3 linked regions of the Homo sapiens genome follow. The protein of the gene in region 3 purifies or fractionates together with the protein of the main gene of each other region. This does not show direct contact. Each region holds a gene or a part of one and is shown on either strand. Other genes may lie near its edges. The genes, in order: PACC1, CELA3A and ZNF843.

Region 1 (3,653 bases), on a different chromosome or scaffold from region 3:
ATGACAGGGCCCTGTTTAAGACTAACCCAAGACAGTCTTCTCCGGCCTAACTTCTGGCCAGTGATGGCCTAGTTGACTGGAGTGTGTCCTTCTGCTCCAGATGAGCATCCCGAGCCACTGGGATACAAGAAGAAAAGACTAGCTTTTTTTACTATTTATTTTTATCTCATCCTTTTAACATTTCTATTTTTGAATGTTTAAAGTGTATATAACACTAAGACAATAATAGTATGTTATATCACCTGCAGAGTTATATGTATATGGAGTATATGATCAAAAAGTTTTTACTAATGGGAAATCTGATCAAAAAGCTTTCAGCCCACTGGCCTAGCAGCCAGGAGATACACCTGGCATCTCTCGCTGTGACACCTGTGAGAGCTGAAGAGGACCTTAGGAAAAGGATCAACATGCACACTTGGGACCACTGTGTCTAGTCTCTCTTCCCTGCAAATAATCAATCTGCTAGGCCACTGCCAGCCCCTCAAAGTGCTGCTAGATGCAAGACATCAGACACAGCTGGGCGAGTTACTGACCTCTCTGCAAGCCACAATGATCTCTGCCCCACACATGCATTCCGTGAGGACTGGCCGGTATGTGCGCTGCCTGCAGAAGCACACACAGACTCCCTGGCATAGCATATGAAGCCCTCCATGGGAGTCCCTTCTCATCCTGACCAAGGCCTACTCACCCTTAAGGCCCTGCTCAAAGGAGCCTTCTCTGCAAAGCTTCCCTCCACCTCAGACTCGAATGTGGAAAAGTCACCAGCAGTTTCAAGCAAACCCAGAGCCACCTACCTCCTGCCGGAACTCCACTGCTTCCCGCCCATCCTCCTCCTTGGTCTTTACCAGTGACATCTTGACCCAGGTGCGGAAGCCCCCAGAGAACTTCCAGCTGGAATAGGCACTCTCACAGGCCTGCATGAAGCCTACCCTGTTTGGGCTTGGAGGAAGGAAGGAGAAGGAAGATCCAGGTCAATGCAGGTCTGGCAGCAGGAGTCGAAGCCCCCACTGCAAGCTGGTTTCTTTGCTGGCACAACCAGGATGCTGCCCACTCCCTGCCTCCTCTCCAAATTGTGATTGCCTCAACAGGGCTGTCAGTCACCAGCAAAAGCAAGGCCCATCCCTCTTTTCTCTCCATTTGGTTTCCAAATGGAGGGGTAGTCACTGGCCTCAAGGCAGGAACATGATCCTTGAAGCTCCCAGTGGGAGAAATCTTCCTCCCTCCTCCCATCATTCCTATCGATGGCTACCAAAGCTGTCGGCAATGAAGTTGGCAGAAGCTCCCCAGAACATGGCGCTCACAGCTCCTCAGAGAACTCTGGACTTCAGCAGAGCCTGAGGAAGCCCTCACCAGCCTGTCAGCTCCCATGGAAGGCCCAAAGAGGGGAAGAGGGTTCCTTGGGGAGGTCTCAGCCAGATGGGTCACCTACAGCATCAGCCCCAAGACGGTGCAGATGCAGCAAAATCAAAGCGAACATAAAAACAAGTAAAAACTGCAGCAGCATACCGAGGAAGCTCACGAAAGGAGCGTGGAGTGGGGGTGGGATCCCGGGGAAAGTCTTCCAGGAGGAAGGCAAGATGGCCAGCTTGAAGCAGGGAAGGGAGAGGGAATTCTAGGTGGCAGAAAGGGTGGAAAATGCTAAGGCAGAGGCTCCGAGCTCTGGGGTGGAAGAACAAAGCAGTGGTGGTGTGGAATGGAGGCAGCTCGCTGCATGTCCAGCTGGGGAGCAGCCTCCCTGCCCCTGTAGCTGCCTCCCTGCTTGCTCTGAATGGAGCCTCTGGGCTCAGCAGGACCTGGTAGGAACTGAGTCCCTCTCAACTCAGGCACATGAAGAAAATTCTCCTGCCCTCTAGGCTCCACGGTGTGACCCCAAAGCAGTGTGTGTGGAGCAGACAAGAACTTTCTGATGGTCAGGGGACATTCATCACTGTAAATCGAAGACTAAGAGAGGTGGCAGAGCTTATATCCTCATACCAGAGATGCAGTAGACCCTTGAACAACACAGGTTTGAACTGGCTGGGTCCACTCACGTGCGGATTTTCTTTTGCCTCTGCCACTCCTGAGACAGCAAGACCAAACCTCCTCCTCAGCCTACTCAACATGAAGGCGATGAGGATGAAGGCCTTTACAATGATCACTTCCACTGAATGAATAGTAAGTATATTTTCTCTTCCTTATGATTTCCTTTTTTTTTTTTTTGGAGTCTCGCTCTGTTGCCCAGGCTGGAGTGCAGTGGCGCAATCTCAGCTCACTGCAAACTCTGCCTCCTGGGTTCAATCGGTTCTCCTGCCTCAACCTCTTGAGTAGCTGGGACTACAGGTGCCCGCTACCACGCCTGGCTAATTTTTTGTATTTTTAGTAGAGATGGGGTTTCACCATGTTAGCCAGGATGGTCTCGATCTCCTGACCTCGTGATCCGCCCACCTTGGCCTCCCAAAGTGGTAGGATTACAGGTGTGAGCCACCACACCTGGCCATGATTTTCTTAATAACATTTTTTTTCTCTAGTTTACTTTATCGTAAGAATACAGTCTATGATATATATAACCACGCAATATGTGTTGTTTATGTTATTGGTAAGGCTTCTGTCAACAGTAGGCTGTTAGTAGTTTTGGGGGTCAAAAGTTATACACAAATTTTTGGCTGCATAGGCAGGAGTGGTTAAGTTTGGTAACCCCAAACCCCAAGTTGTTCAAGGACCAACTGTATTTCAGGCAAACATACATTAAGCCCGCACTAAGGGCAAGATGTGGTTCCTGTGCACACTGTGGGGGAAACCAAGGAACCACACAAGAACTTGCTCTCAAAGGGACTTACAAATCAAAGGCAACTTCCCCTACTCCTCAGCAGCCCCAGGCAATGGTGAGACCAAATGATCTCTCTAGAACCAGCCAGCACTATGTGCATGGAGAGCCAGCATGCTCCTCCACACCAGATTTGCTTAACTTTGTGATAAGATGTTGAGTGGACCGGCCAAGCTCATGAGGTCCCTTCCTGGGCCAGTGGGTCATCTGAGAATGCCCCTTCCCTTCCCTGCCCTCACCCCTCCGTCTCTAGCCTTGGGACATACACAGCTGGAATAAGATAAAAAGTAGACAGTAAGCCCACTGTGAACTCTAAAAGCCCACCTTTGCAGGAACTCCTGGAAAGAAGAGAAGAGGAGGTAATCAATGGCGCTGAAGTCCTCACTACTCTTGTTCAGGCGGAACTGGAGGAAGACCAGCTCCCGCTTTTTCACTTCCCGGGGCCCCTGGACAATCAGGGCAGATTTCTGCAGAGAGAAAAAGGACAGAGTCTCAGTCCTGGGAGAGTACACAGAGGCCTCTGGGTCTGAGGGCAGAAGTACTGACTGGAAAGCCCATAGCTCCTTGCCCAGTGGTCTCCAAAGGGACCACTAGCCAACAACAGGACTGGGCTGGGACTCATGCTCATTCCTGGGGAGTTTTCCCCATATGATGCCCAACCAGAGCTGAATGCAGCTCATCCTCTGTCCACTTTTCTCATTGGTTCTTTGAGTTATGGAAGCTCTTAATTTAGCAAGGATGATCACTTTCATCTGTTATGTGTGCCAATCTTTTCTTCCAGTCTGTCATTTTTCTTTTAACTTTGTTTCCAATGTCATTTGTCCTATGGAAACTTTAAATTTAACGTAGT
Region 2 (3,653 bases), on a different chromosome or scaffold from region 3:
CTCAAAAAAAAAAAAAAAAGAGACAACGTCTTGCTGTGTCGCCAGGCTTGGGTGCAGTGGCAAAAATCATAGCCACTGTGAGCTTGAACTCCCAGGCTCAAACAATCCTCCCACCTCAGCCTATCAAGTAGTTGGGACTACAGGCGAGTGCCACCATGCCTGACTAAGTAAAAAAAGTTTTTCTGTAGATGGGCATCTCACTATATTACCTAGGCTGGTCTCAAACTCCTAGCCTCAAGCAATCCTCCCACCTCAGCCTCCCAAAGCACTTGGATTATAGGCAGGAGGGACTGTGCCCAGAACAATGATGGTATTCTTAATGGTTAATTATAACTTTAGAACCACAGAATTGACCTGCGTTAGAGGTCATGGGACCAGTATCTCCTGCTGTGCTGATGCGGAAGCCTGAGGACCAGGGAGACACAGTGACTTGTCCCAAGTCATGTCAGTGTGTGAGCTGAGACTGCAACCCGGGGGTCCTGACTCCCAGGCCTGGGCTCTGTGTCTGGACTGCGCTGATTTCCTCCAAGTCCTGCCTGGCCTGGAGGCTGAATGGGGCAAGCAGGCAAGATCCTTCCTCCACCTTCCAGGCAGTTGGCCCCATTCCAAGGTCCTGCACACCCAGCACCACCTCGGGCAGGTAAGAGCTGACTCACGTTGCAGCCGGAGCGGATGTACCCTCCAGCACACACCATGGTTTTCTTCACGGTGGAACCCCACCAGTTCCACCTGGAGCAGTGCTTATAGTCCACCACGGGCAGCCGGGCCTGCTGCAGCTTGTCTGGGAGTGGCCCATTGGCTGCAAGGATAAAAAGCACCGAGTCAGGGGTCTGGGGGCACACCGCTAGGTGCCCCAGAGGAAGGGGGCATTCAAGGCCCACAGTTCTTCTGCCCTGATGAGGACTCTCCTCCCACCCGCTAAATGGTCCTGCATGCTTTGTGCACCATTACATCCCTAGCACGTGGCACACAGAAGATACCAAAACATGTGCAATTGACCACATTCGTGTTTTGGAGGTTGATGGAAGAAGGCTGCAGCTGGAGAGAAATGGGAGAAAAGTACAAGGTCCGGTCTTGGTGTTACCTTCAACCTGCAGCCCCCAGGCCCTGTCTTTCTGCCACTGTCTCTGTGGCCAGCTAGAGAAGTCAGCACGTACTATAGAGACGGCCCCAGCCGGTGATGTAGCAGGGTGTCTTGTTGGGAAGGATGTCACCAGCGGGAGGGAGTGAGGCGAGCTGGACGGCATCTCCCAGCTGGGCGCTGCGTGAGAGCTTGATGAGGGCGATGTCATTGCTGGGGAGGAGGGAACAGTCACGGGGCCTGGTCCTCCAGCCGGCCCAAGTCCTACCTTCTAGCCGTTGCTCCAGGCTATTCCACCTCTGAGATGCCCCAACTTCTTTACCCTCCAAATCCACTCTTTCATCATCATTATTATTATTATTATTATTATTATTGAGACAGAGTCTCGGTCTGTTGCCCAGGCTGGAGTGCAGTGTCACAATCATAGCTCACTGCAGCCTCCTGGGCCAAGGGATCCTCCTGCTTTCACCTCCTGAAGTGCTGGAATTACAGGCATGAGCCACTATACCTGGCCCAAATCGTTCTTAAGGCTGAGGAATTTTATTTATTCATTTATTTATTTTTGAGTCAGAGTCTCGCTCTGTTGCCCAGGCTGGAGTGCAGTGGCATGATCTTGGCTCACTGCAGCCTCCGCCTCCCGAGTTCAAGTGATTCTCCTGCCTCAGCCTTTCCAGTAGCTGGGATTACAGGCTCATGCCACCACGCCTGGCTAATATTTGTTAAGATTTTTTCATACACTTGAAAGGCATAAGATTGTCTCCTTGGCCTTCACACCACCCAGGAAGCCCAACTTCATGGTCACCTTTTGACAAATGGCAAAACTAAGGCCCAGAGAAGGCCAGTGACTTGCTCAGGCCATACACAGAGTTAATGCCAGAGCCTGACTCTCAGCCCAGTGCTCCTCCTTTTGCCCATAGTGCTGGGAGCCCAGGATGCACTGGGTGAGCCATCTATTGAATGGAGAAACCCTCGGATATGGGGGAAGGATGCCAGAGGAACCCTGAGCTCTGAAGCCACTAGCCAAGTGGCCTTGGCAGAGTTCCTGCCCCTCCCTGAACACTGCCATCCCCTCTGTAGGGAGACAGGTTTGGTGGTGATGGTCCTTAAAGGCTCTGCTGGCTTCAATCCTCAGTGTGTGGGACCTGGGCACAGGCTGCTGGACTCAGCTCCCCTGTCCCTATGTCCCTATGTCCCTACGTCCCTACTCAGAGTTGGAGCCTACTCAGACTTGGCTGTGGGTCATGGAGGGACAAGTAGAGGAGCCCCTGGGTTCCAGACCGGAGCATTCACTCACCCACAGGCCACACACGAGCGGTTCCAGAGTGGATGCACAAACAGCTCCTCAGAGTTGATGGGGATCACCTGCTCGGGGCCCTCCTTCACAGCAAGGTTGTACTCACCCAACACCACCTGGTAGGTCAGATCCCTCCTGCAGGCAGAGGTGAGGTCAGTCGGGGCCTGACTGGCTCACCTCCCTCCTTCCCCATCATCACCCACTCTCCCCCGCTGCCCAGGGCCACAGGCAGGGACAGGGTAGAGAACTCACGAGATGCAGTGGCCGGCAGTCACAACCCAATCGGGGGCGATGAGGCTACCGCCACACGTGTGGTAGAAGCTTCCACTTTTCTCATACTGCAGGGAAACCTGGTGGCCCAGGAGGAAAGGGCCTCAGTGGGCTGGGCCCCACCATGAGAGTTGCCACCAATGGCTGTATAGGTTGTGCACTGTGCAACTCTAGAGGGCGCCATTCACATGGAAAACGAGAGCACCCACTGAAATATGCAGCATACAACCTGCGACCTGGGCAGCTGCCCGTGGTGGCCCTATCACTTTTCCATGGGGGTCACATTCTGATTCTCCAAAGCCTCCCCACACCAGCACTATGACCTCCCTGGGGACCCCAACATTCTCTACCTTCTGTCTCTTAACAGCCCTTGAAGGCCCTCTGTTCTATCACGCACCCCTCGCCCTGTGAGTTTTTTTTTTTTTTGAGATGGAGTTTTGCTCTTGTTCCCCAGGCTGGAGTGCAATGGTGGCAATCTCAGCTCATTTCAACCTCCGCCTCCCGGGTTCAAGCGATTCTCCTGTCTCAGCCTCCACAGTAACCGGGATTACAGGCACCTGCCGTCGTGCCTGGCTAATTTTGTATTTTTAGTAGACACGGAGTTTCACCATGTTGGCCAGGCTGGTCTCGAGCTCCTCACCTCAGGTGATCTGCCCACCTCGGCCTCCCGAAGTGCTGGGATTACAGGCGTGAGCCACCGCGCCCAGCCCCCCTGACTCTTTTGAACCTCAGCTCTTTCAAGGCCTCTTGAGCCTTCTGAAGCACAGCTCACCCTGATGAGTTCTTTGCCTCTCTTCCCATTTCCTACACATTCTGATTTTCAAAAGCTCCATCTAGACCAGGGTTAGCAAACTGTGGACAGTGGGGCACATCAGGCTTCTGGTCTGTTTTTGTAATAAAGATGTCCTGGAAATAGTCACATTCATTTCTGTATTGTTTGTGTCTGCTTTCATGCTACCATGGCACAGTCAAGTCATTACTATCCAAACCATCAAATAACCTAAAATA
Region 3 (2,581 bases):
TAGTACGATCTCTGATCACTGCAACCTTTGCCTCTCTGGCTCAAGTGATCCTCCCGCTTCAGTCTCTCAAGTAGCTGGGACTGTAGTTGCACACCACTAGGCCCAGCATTTTTTTTTTTTTTTTTGGTAGAAGCTGGTTTTTATCATGTTGCCCAAGCTGCTCTCAAACTCCTGGGCTCAAGCGGTTGGCCCACCTGGGCCACCCAAAGTGCTGGGATTGCAAGCATGAGCTACCATGCCCGGCCTCCTATAATCAATGTTTTTTTTTTTTTTTTTTTGAGAGGGAGTCTTGCTCTGTCACCCAGGCTGGAGTGCAGTGGTGCTAGCTATGTCGGCTCACTGCAACCTCTGCCACCCGGGTTCAAGCGATTCTCCTGCCTCAGCCTCCCGAGTAGCTGGGATTACAGGCGCCTGCCACCATTGCCGGCTAATTTTTTTTTGTATTTTAGTAGAGACAGGATTTCACCATGTTGGTCAGGCTGGTCTCAAACTCCTGACCTCATGATCCACCCACCTTAGCCTCCCAAAGTGCTGGGATTACAGGTGTGAGCCACTGCACATGGCCAATCAATGCTTCTTAATAGTAAGATTTATTTTAAAATTTGGATTGGGGTTATAAGACTTTCAGTAGTCTTGGATATTACCATCTTTATCCTGAATGAAAGTGTAGCAAGAGGCTGGGCGCAGTGGCTCATGCCTATAATCCTAGCACTTTGGGAGGCTGAGGCCAGAGGATCCTTGAGCCCAGGAGACTAACCTGGGCAACAAAGCAAGACCCTGTCTGTATTAAAATTACAAAAGCGTGGTAAGGATCATTTCCTCATTAACCTTGAACATCCAAACACAAACCATCAAAAAGAATCAACTTCAGAAAGACATTATTGCTTTATTGGTTAAGGTGATTAAAAGAAGGGGGCCCCTCAGGCCACAAAGATAATTAACTGATTGTCACAAACCATATTGAAACTCTTTTTTAAAAAGGGTATAGATAACTTTTAATTTACAATTTTAACAATCAAAGTAGCCAAGAGTAGAGTTTGCAATAGGACTAGAAAGTATTCCAGTGGCTCATATATAAGTGGGCTAATTTTATCTATTTTTAGGCCTATTAGGCCTGTCAGTCTGGATTTTCCATTACTTGGAAATGGGGACTGGGGAACAGATGCTTCTGGCCACTCTGAGCCCTGGCTTGATCCTTGGGTCTCATCTCTCTCTCTCTCCCCGTTTGTGCTTCACCTCTCAGCGGATACTTGGCTCTTATCTCAGGACCTGACCTCCCACTGAGCTCCAAGCCTGCAAAGCATGCTGCCACCCAGTTATTTCCCCCTTAACATCCTGCCATCACTTCAAATTTAATACCCCTATGCCAAAAAATCACTGACTCCTAATTTCACTTTTGTTGGTGGCACCAGTTTTATTCTCTTGGACACCTAAGCTCAAAAACAGTGGAACTTCTTTTGACTCATCGCTCTCCTTCCTTCCCTAGAAGTGAGCTACCATTTAAAAGTGATGTGCTCATTCTCAGCAAACTATCCCAAGGACAAAAAAATAAACACCGCATGTTCCCACTCATAGGTGGGAATTGAACAATGAGAACACATGGACACAGGAAGGGGGACATCACACACCGGGGCCTGTTGTGGGGTGGGGGGAGGGGGGAGGGATAGCATTAGCAGATATACCTAATGTAAATGACGAGTTAATGGGTGCAGCACACCAACATGGCACATGTATACATATGTAACAAACCTGCACGTTGTGCACATGTACCCTAGAACTTAAAAGTATAATGATACAAAAAAAGTGATGTGCTATCATCAGTCACCCGAGAAATGCAAATTAAAACCACAAGGAGTGCCCTTATGCACCCACTAAAATCGAGCAGACTGAAGGTGCTAACTGTTGCCTGAGGATATGGAGTCTCACACATTGCTGGGGAAATATAAAATGGCCTGGGCATTTTGGAAACCAGTTTTGGTTAACAGTAAATTAAATGTACACTTACCACATGACTCAATAATTCTACTCTTAGGATTTACTCAAGGAAAATAAAAACATATGTCCACACAAAGACTTTTTCACAAATGTGCATATCAGCTTTATTCATAATAGGCATAAGATAGAAACATCCAAATGTCCATCAATGGGTGGAAGAATAAAGTGTGGTTTACCCATGTAACAGAATACTAGCAACAAAGAGGAACTGCTGTTACCTGCAAGCAATGGATGAATCTCAAAATTATGTTAAACCAGAGAAGCCAGACACAAGAGAATACATACTATATGATTCAATTTCTGTGAAATTCCATTTCTACAAAAAGCAAAACTTACTCATAGGGGCAGAAAGTAGACCAGTGGTTCTCTGGGGCTGGGTCAGGGAGAGAGCAGCTGACTGCACGGGGCATGAGAGGGTGACGGCAAAGTTCTGCACCCTGAATGTGATGATGGTTATGCCCGTGTACACATTCACCAAAAACCAGCAACCTGTACACTTAAAGTGGGTGTGTTTTATATATAACTTATACTTCAGTAAGTGTCAGCACAGATAGGCTAAGCCTCTTCTGAGATGTAACACAGGTAG

The links.
Region 1: the proteins of ZNF843 (region 3) and PACC1 purify together in Homo sapiens (co-immunoprecipitation; one large-scale study listed by IntAct). This does not show direct contact.
Region 2: the proteins of ZNF843 (region 3) and CELA3A purify together in Homo sapiens (affinity purification with mass spectrometry; one large-scale study listed by BioGRID and IntAct). This does not show direct contact.

The regions. Positions count from the first base shown.
Region 1 is NC_000001.11:212,376,768-212,380,420, forward strand, and holds part of PACC1 (proton-activated chloride channel), read right to left. Parts: intron 3,271-3,653; coding exon 3,128-3,270; intron 940-3,127; coding exon 795-939; intron 118-794; exon of another isoform or gene 27-117; intron 1-26. UniProt on the Homo sapiens protein: Chloride channel gated by pH that facilitates the entry of chloride ions into cells upon exposure to extracellular acidic pH. Involved in acidosis-induced cell death by mediating chloride influx and subsequent cell swelling.
Region 2 is NC_000001.11:22,004,519-22,008,171, reverse strand, and holds part of CELA3A (chymotrypsin-like elastase family member 3A preproprotein), read right to left. Parts: intron 2,726-3,653; coding exon 2,628-2,725; intron 2,511-2,627; coding exon 2,376-2,510; intron 1,295-2,375; coding exon 1,158-1,294; intron 800-1,157; coding exon 657-799; intron 1-656. UniProt on the Homo sapiens protein: Efficient protease with alanine specificity but only little elastolytic activity.
Region 3 is NC_000016.10:31,437,361-31,439,941, forward strand, and holds part of ZNF843 (zinc finger protein 843), read right to left. Parts: intron 1-2,581.